Linked DNA regions of Homo sapiens: region 2 is linked to region 1. A link means that fine-mapping ties the variant in region 1 to the expression of a gene that starts in the linked region. Tissue or cell type: esophagus mucosa. Region 1 holds a variant in brackets; the other region holds the start of a gene. All regions are shown on one strand. Distances are between the middles of the regions.

Region 1 (4,017 bases):
AGCACTGCTCAAAACATCTCTAAGCACAGGTACAAAAATAAAGCAAACTATGACTTCATATAGATATAGAGATATATAGACTTTATCTAGGTGTTCTTTATATTTATATATGTGTGCAGAGGGCACGGGCCCCTGCCCATCTTGCCCGGCACTCATCTCTTGCCCTCCCGCTCCCCACACCCGAGTGCCACTCGCCCGAAGCTCCCAGTCTCCACGATTGCATCTGATCCTTGCCTCCCACATACATTCCCCTCTCTCCTTAAAATAGAACCAATTCTGTAGATTTATATAATTTTATGTACAGTCTCCATAAAAAATACATTAAAGATGGTGCATTACTAATTTGACCCTCCTACCCAAACAGAAGTTGTCTAGCAAAAGAGCCAAACAAAGGAGGGTCTCCTGGGCCTGACACTACGCAGGCAAATCAGCATGTCTGTACAAATCTCTCTCACACACACCACACACAACAGACACACCACACCACACACACAAACACACACACACCACACACGCACCACACACGCACCACACACGCACCACACACACACACAACACACACACAACACACCACACACAACACACACCAAACCACACAACACACACACACATCACACACATGCACACCGCATCACACACATGCACACCAGACACATCACACACACACACACACCAGACATACACACACCATACCACACACCACACCCACACACAATACACACATACCACACACAATAACACACCACATACAATACACAAAACACATAGCACACACACACACCACACACAGTCCATGTACCACACCAAACACACCAGACACACCACACACACCAAACACACACACACCAAACACACCAGACACACCACAAGCATACACCACACGCAACATACACACACCAAACCACACTCAACACACCACACACACTGCATCACACACACACACACCAGACACATCACACATACACGCACACCACAGATACACACACACCATACCACACACACCCCACACACATACACAACCACACAATAGACACACCACACACAACACACCACACAATACGCACAACACATACCACACACAATACACACACCACACCACACACACCACCCAGACACACCACACACAGATACACACACCACACACAACACACACACACACCAGACATGCACACCACACACAGACATGCACACCACACACATATACCACACACACCACATACACACACACACCCCACACACACACACACACACCCCACTTACTTCCTGAATCCAGAAAAGAAACACTGGACTAGACAGCTGGCTGGGGGTTAGAGACCAGGGGGACAACCTGGTGCCTGCAGAAGGACACATGAGACAATCCCTTCTCCAGCCCTGCCAGGACACCGTCGGCCATGGCACACCTCTCGTTGTTCATGGGAGGCCATATAAAACCTCATTGATAGAGTGGCTGACAACTACCCTTTCAAGAACTGCAAGATGACCGTGAGGAGGCTCATCCCTCCACCAGAAATACAGCTTCATAGACCACTATGCCAAAAGGAGGCCAAAGCCCTGGGTTCTACCACCAGCGTGAGGAGGGCTGGGCACTCGCCCCTCCCATGGCTTATATGAAAACCCCACACGTGCATGCCCGCAGCATTTCTAAGGCCGAAAATGCAAGTCACCTCCCCAG[C/A]CCAACCCCCTGCCCTCCGAGATTCCCTGCCCCTCCCACCACCTCCCCATCGTAAACCACGCACATGTTCACGATCCCTGGAGCCATACAGAAGTGGGGAAAGGAAAAGGGAAGGGAAGCTAACTGGTGTGTATACGGGGTGGCGAGGGAGAACCTGCCCTAGTTCGCAAAATAAATCCAGGAAATCCAGTGCCACAGAGAGGTAGGATTGGTGGAGCACACTTCTTCAAGACCCGAAAGAAAGGCAGGCCCAGGCAGCCATTCACGTCCCCATCTAGTGTGATGGGAATGGTGACAACCAAGGACCAGTGACAGGAGCTGAGCATTTGAGCCACGGGGTTAAAACTGTCCAATCTAGCTCTCCCAGCCAGGGCTCCAAAGCCGGTAGCTTTTCACCAGCTCTCGTCCGAAACCCTAACTACTACTACTGTCTTCTACACCGCAGAAGACAACACCCATGTGATTTTAATGACTGGCCACTGTTCCACCAGAGTATATGGCAACCAAGATACCCAGACTCTTCCTTCTCTAAGATGTGAGCAGCCATTAATGACCCCTGTATGGATGCTTCATTTATCCTTATCCTACATGGGATCCCTCAGGGGATGGTGGTGTCTTTGGACCAAATTCAATCTACTGAGTGTTTTTCTAACAGCTTAAAATGAGGTTGAAAAAAACTTCCACCTTCTCGGCAACCCAACACACAGAACATCTGGTGGGGTTATTATACTTGCTCCTGAAAGAAGGTTTTGAGAGTACAGACAGGAACCCAGAAATAAGGCTCTGAACCAGTGTGGATTCACTCGCAGTCAGAGGGAAGGGTGGTGATTGGTACCCCTAGCCAAACAGCAAGCTGGTAAGAGTGCGAAAGTCCAATCTGGGCTTTGATCCTTGGTTTACTGACTTCTTCTAAAGAAGAGATTTTTCATTCTGCCTCTTAATCTAAAAAGAAGCAGAGCTGGAGACATTAAAGAGAGAAGAATGGCTGGTCAAGCCAAGAGTTTCAGGTGAAACTCTTTTGCCCTCCCACCTCCACCACAGACTAGTGACTTTAGCCTATCAAAAGAAGAGAAAGTAAAGAGAAGGCCTCACGAAGCCACTGTGCAACTTCATGGCCGGAAGGAAGCCTCTCTACCTCAAGAGGAAAGGGGGATGAAGGCACGTCAGGCTCCAGCTCCCCCTCTCTATCACCATCACCATCACCAAGGCCCATGAACATTTTCAGATTGTGGACGGAGAGGCAACCCACCGCTGCAGCTTAGGAAAATGAGAATGGCACTTCCTTCTCCACTGATGAAGAGCTGGTGATAGGATGGGCATCTCAAGACAAGTTTCTCAGCTTTGGGCCTGAGGAGCCCCCAAAACAAATGAAGTTGAAATACAATATAAAGAAGATGTCCATGTTTGGTTTGGGCACTTAGTGTTAGAGGCTAATTCTAGAAGAAGCAAGGAAGATCTAGCTAAGAAGCAAGACCTCTCCCAAGATCCAGTCTGCGTTCACATGCAGGACCCCACCCCACAATCCGTCCCTGATGCCCAGATCCCCCTCCCACATGCCCTGCATGGCTACCACTCCCCAGCCAGATGCCCACCAGGCAATCATTCTTCGTCATCTTGGGATGATCCCCCAGTGTGTACCCTGCACCCTTACAAGTAACTAAGTTATCACATGACTCAAAGAGATGCTGAGGCTTGGTGTCCCCTGGGGTGGTCTCACCATCCTAACCCATGCCTGACCTCACCCTCTGTGCCCCTTCCAGCCTCACCAACACCTGGCAAAGCACACAGGCCTCCCCTCCACCCTCCAGTTCTCCAACTCCCCCTCCTGAAACACCAGTGCCCCATCCATTACCCTAGTCAATCTAGAGCTGGCCAATAAGGCACCTCTTTGGCCCTCTCCCTAAAGCAACACACACAGCCACATGGGGCTCTACACACTGCCTACTAGATCCACTTTATATGAAGAAGATACCCAGGCAGGGCTGGGTTAGAAGCCCCGGTGGGAATGTGCACAGCTCCTAGAGTACCACAGAGGCTGGACTCAACAGAGCCTTCCATGACCCGCTCAGCTCCACCCTCTGCCCCTTCCTGCAGCTCCCCAGCCATCCCTGCAGTGCCCCCAAAGCTCCTTTACATGCAAGCAAAGCAAGCCCAAGATTAACCATTAGCTTTTCTTTTCCTAGGTTTCTCTACAGATTAATAAAATGTACTTTATGTACAATTCTTCCCCCACCCCACCCCCAAGCCTGGAAAAGGCTTTTGCTAACAAAATAGGAAGAAACAGATTCCAGCCACGCAGTCTTCAGCCCTGGAGATTCAGATCGTGGGCAGTGCCAAAGATGCTG
Region 2 (4,017 bases), 58 kb before region 1:
TAGGAAAGCCTCTGTCTGAAGCATGATGGCTTCAGGCCAGCTCCCTGGGCCTCGGGGCTCAGCATCTGCAGAGCCACGAGAGGCAGTGGGGACGGCTGTGAGCTGGCAGGCACCCGGGACGCTGGCGAAGCCACCATAACCGAGTGCAGAATTCTAGCCTCGGGCGCTGGGAAGCCTCCCCACACCTCAGTTGCAGATGAAAACTTTGGCTTTTGCATTTTAAGAGCTTATTTTCTTTTAGCTCTTTAAAGTGCAGCCACTTCTGAGCAACTCAAGTGCAAAAATAACAGAAATCTGAAATGTATTCAGAAGCATTTAAGAAATGGAGTGCAAGCCCAGTTTTCCAACCCCTCAAGTCATTTAAAAATGTAGAAATGAGCTGGGCTTTCAAGATAGCAAGGATATTCCCTTAAGACCCCAAAGCAAGGCTGAGGAATTTGTCAGCCAAAGACGACATCTCTAGAGAAGAGCATCTGAGGGTTCGTGAAGAGAGGGGCTTGCGCATCTCTCCCTCCCCTTCCTTCGCCCAGGGCAAGTGGGACACCTTACCTCCATCTTATGAACTGGATTCGTGTTCTCTCCTCTAGGACCTCTTGGCTCTGGTTTGCCAACAAATCAGACTTAGAGAGGTGGTGCTTCACCTGGGAAATCCAGAGGGTCCATGTGATTCCTGCCCAGTGTGGCCCCCAACTGGGCTGGCACAGAGCCCAGACGAGCACCTCACCCTTGCCCAGAATCATTTACGGTGCACCTCCCACCTCTCCCCTCTCCCTCACCGCTACTCCCAGGCAAGGTCTCAAACTCTCATTTACCACATCTCTGGTCACGTGGATGTCCTGGCCATGGGTGGGAGGGGAGTCAGTGGACATCTTCTCCCTTACACCCTGGGAAGGGTGGTTGATGGACAGCTTTTCCTTTATGCCCCGAGAAGCCTCTTCTTCTGTCTGAAAGGTGAGAAATTCCCTCTGAAAATGTCACTCTGCATCCAACCCTGGGTCTTCTTCTCCTCTTCCTTTCCTTTTATTCATTCTCCATCACAACTCACACACCACATATTCACACACATACACTCCTTACCTCACTGTTCCCACAATAAGCTACTTCCCTGTAAAGTCCTCAGAACTCCCTAAGTCCCTGGCCCTATCCCAAGGTGTTCCTGAGACACCCTTGAGCTGGGAAGGATGCAGCTGAAACCCTTAAGCCAGGATGCTTGAGAAGCAGGACGGCGTTAGTGGTGGTGCTAACACATTTCCTGCCAGGACACAAGCCACAGTGTCCTCCAGCACATGTGAAGAAATTAGACTCAAATCTAGGAAGGGTGTCTGGCAATGAACTTGAGTTCCAGTTCCATGAAGAAGGAAGTCCAGATCCCCACACCCACTGAGACCACTTCTCTAGCATTTTGGATATCCTGAGTCATAAAGAAATCTTACTCACTTTTTTCAACCAATGATGTAGTACAGACACAGCCTCACTTTCCACAACGTCAATGTCCTGGAACAAATTGGCAAGTTGGTGACCTCAGAAAACCTAGAAATTCAGCTCTTCCCACCCAGCCCCCGCAACTGTTACTCAAATTTATTTGTAAGATCTCTATGAAGTGCAGCAGGGTCCCACAGGGGGAGAAGATATATGAAAAATTATTCCATGTGACTACCACCAAGCTGCTTACCGAACTGGTTATTGGTAGGAAGGGAAGCCCTACACCTTTCCGAGCAAGAATATACACAATCCATGTCGTAATTATCATCTTTGAATGTATACCAGGCCCCCTTCTTGGCTCCCTCCTTCCATTGAAGCTGCCTGAGAACTCCTATGGGACAGGAAGGTCATTGAAGGGAGGTGTCCACCTGATTGGCTGACCCATGGTGATGTGACAATGGCCTCCCTTTGAAAATGATGTATGTGAGTATAAATGCCGTTGCCAAGAGCCCCTGCATTTCAGGCTCTGGGTGCACTCCTATGAGTTACCCTGCTTCAAGGAGCAGAACCATTGAATAAAAGATTGCTGTCTAACACCATTGGCTGACCCTTGAATTCTTTTCTTGGGAAAGCACTAATTTGGGAGCTCACCTCCAGGCAGGAGGATGGGGTCTGGAGCCAGGAAACCTAAGGCCGATTTACACTGACTTCCTAGAACTAAATCAAAAGGAAAACCCCAACTTTCCGTGCCCAAGTAACAAAAAGACCAGAGGCTACGCCCTTTGCAACCCTCTCCTTTTCTGCATGGCAGATGAAAAACTGAAAGTATCTCTGATTGCTCCCCTCCCACAATCAGGCTGGTTGTGGGCCAGGTCTTCATTTGCATAGAGATATAACTTTATAACTTCACTTCAGCCTCTGATTGGTCACTTTCCGCAACCAATCAGACTGATCATGAGCCACTACTTCATTTACATAGGGTATATACCAAGTAACCAATGGGAAACCCCTAGAGGGTATTTAAACCCCAGAAAATTCTGTAACCAGTCTGCTCCCATCCTGTGGAGTGTACTTTTATTTTCGTTAAATCTCTGCCTTTGTTACTTCATTCTTTCCTTCGTTTGTGTGTTTTGTCCATTTCTTTGTTTAAGACGCCAAGAACCTGAACACCCTCCACCAGTAACAACCTGTCCCGCAACAACTTGTCATGTGCTCTTGACCTAATCATTAGTCCCTCTGGTCTGAGTTTCTTTGTCTTATACTGAAAGGGATAGAGTTGTGTCCCTAGCTTTCTTCTAACTCTAATATTCCAAAAATTTTCCCACGTTTATTCTTCTCAGGATTATAGAAAACCTTTTATCACTTTCTCCAATTCCCCTGATACAGCCACTACACGTCTTCCCTCTCAACAATTCGCCTCAATTTTATATCATCCCTGACATAGTCAGAATCGGCTAGGCTCTGCTGAGGACTGAGGCAACAAACCAACCTCCAAATCAAAATGTTTATTTCTCACTCTCAAAAGCTCTCGTGCAAGTTGGGTAATTTCAGAGCAATTGTGTGCCATGTGGAGACTCACAGGTCCACATTCAGAGGACACGACCTCCATGACTGCCAAAGCAGGGAAGAGAGCACAGAGAGGAATCAGGTCAGTGTTCCACCTTTCAGCTCAGAGGCTCCTACTTAGAGCTTTTGATCTAGAACTAGTCCTATGGCCCCTACCTAATTCCAAGGAAGACTGGAAATTGTAAAATAGCAGATGAAATTACCTGTCAACATCTCTGTTTCTACAGCTATCCCCTAAAATTTATGTTTTCATCCTTATTGATGTAATTTTATTTTTGAATATTTAAAATATTAATGTGATTCAGAAATCAAAACATGAACAGATACATTCAAGGACGTTCCATCTCTTCCCCATACCTTCAACCTTGTTCTAACTCACTTCAGAAGTAAAATTTTCATTAGTTTCTCGACGACATATCCTGTGCTTATGTTGTCAAAATGAAGCTCATACATAAATCTATTTGCTTTTTGATTACAATGTTATAAAATGCATACAGTAAAATGTACAAATATGCATACAGCGGAGAAAAATTTTTACACACACACACATACACACACACACACACACACACACACACTTACTTGTTTAACCACTGCCCAGATCAAGATAGAAAACATTTTTAGTAGGACATTTGTATTATATTTGATTTGATGCTGTTTAAAATCATGCTGCTATGAAAATTTTTATACTGTACCTATCTTTTGGTTGACATAAGCACTAAATCTTCTGAGTATATACCAAGGATTAGAGTTGCTAGGTCATAGACTTTAGATATGTGTAGCATTCATATACACCAAACAGTACTGCAAAGGGGTTGTATTAATCTACTGCCCATAAGCAATGTATGAAAGTGACAGTTACTCCACGTTTTTTCCAACACTTAGTATTGTCGCTCCTTTAAATTTAGCCAATCTAGTAGAGATGTAGTGGTAACTAATAATACTTTAATTTTCATTTAACCGATTATCAGTGGCATCATGCATGTTTTTATTTGCCTATTGGTCACTTTGGATATTCTTTTTTGTGAA

Alleles and levels. Positions count from the first base shown, and alleles are read on the strand shown. Sizes are in standard deviations (SD) of each study's normalised expression.
For the expression in esophagus mucosa of the gene that starts at base 1,817 in region 2, allele C in region 1 goes with a lower level than allele A (moderate effect, 0.72 SD a copy in GTEx).

Evidence for each region. PIP is the estimated chance that this variant, and not a neighbour inherited with it, causes the effect. A credible set is the group of variants that fine-mapping cannot tell apart.
Region 2: it holds the start of SPATA19, and the variant in region 1 is the best candidate, but not a certain one, in a credible set for the expression of SPATA19 in esophagus mucosa (GTEx, PIP 0.81).

Annotation. Positions count from the first base shown.
Region 1 is chr11:133,901,337-133,905,353 of GRCh38, forward strand. It overlaps IGSF9B (immunoglobulin superfamily member 9B), which reads right to left. Exons shown (of 20, transcript NM_001277285.4): 20 at 1-4,017. Among named protein-coding and RNA genes, the nearest start is that of MIR4697, 4.8 kb to the left of the region's middle. The variant C/A (reference allele first, on the strand shown) is at 1,673.
Region 2 is chr11:133,843,697-133,847,713 of GRCh38, forward strand. SPATA19 (spermatogenesis associated 19) reads right to left here and starts at 1,817. Exons shown (of 7, transcript NM_174927.3): 1 at 1,673-1,817; 2 at 1,438-1,494; 3 at 813-944; 4 at 550-641. The coding sequence starts at 1,750.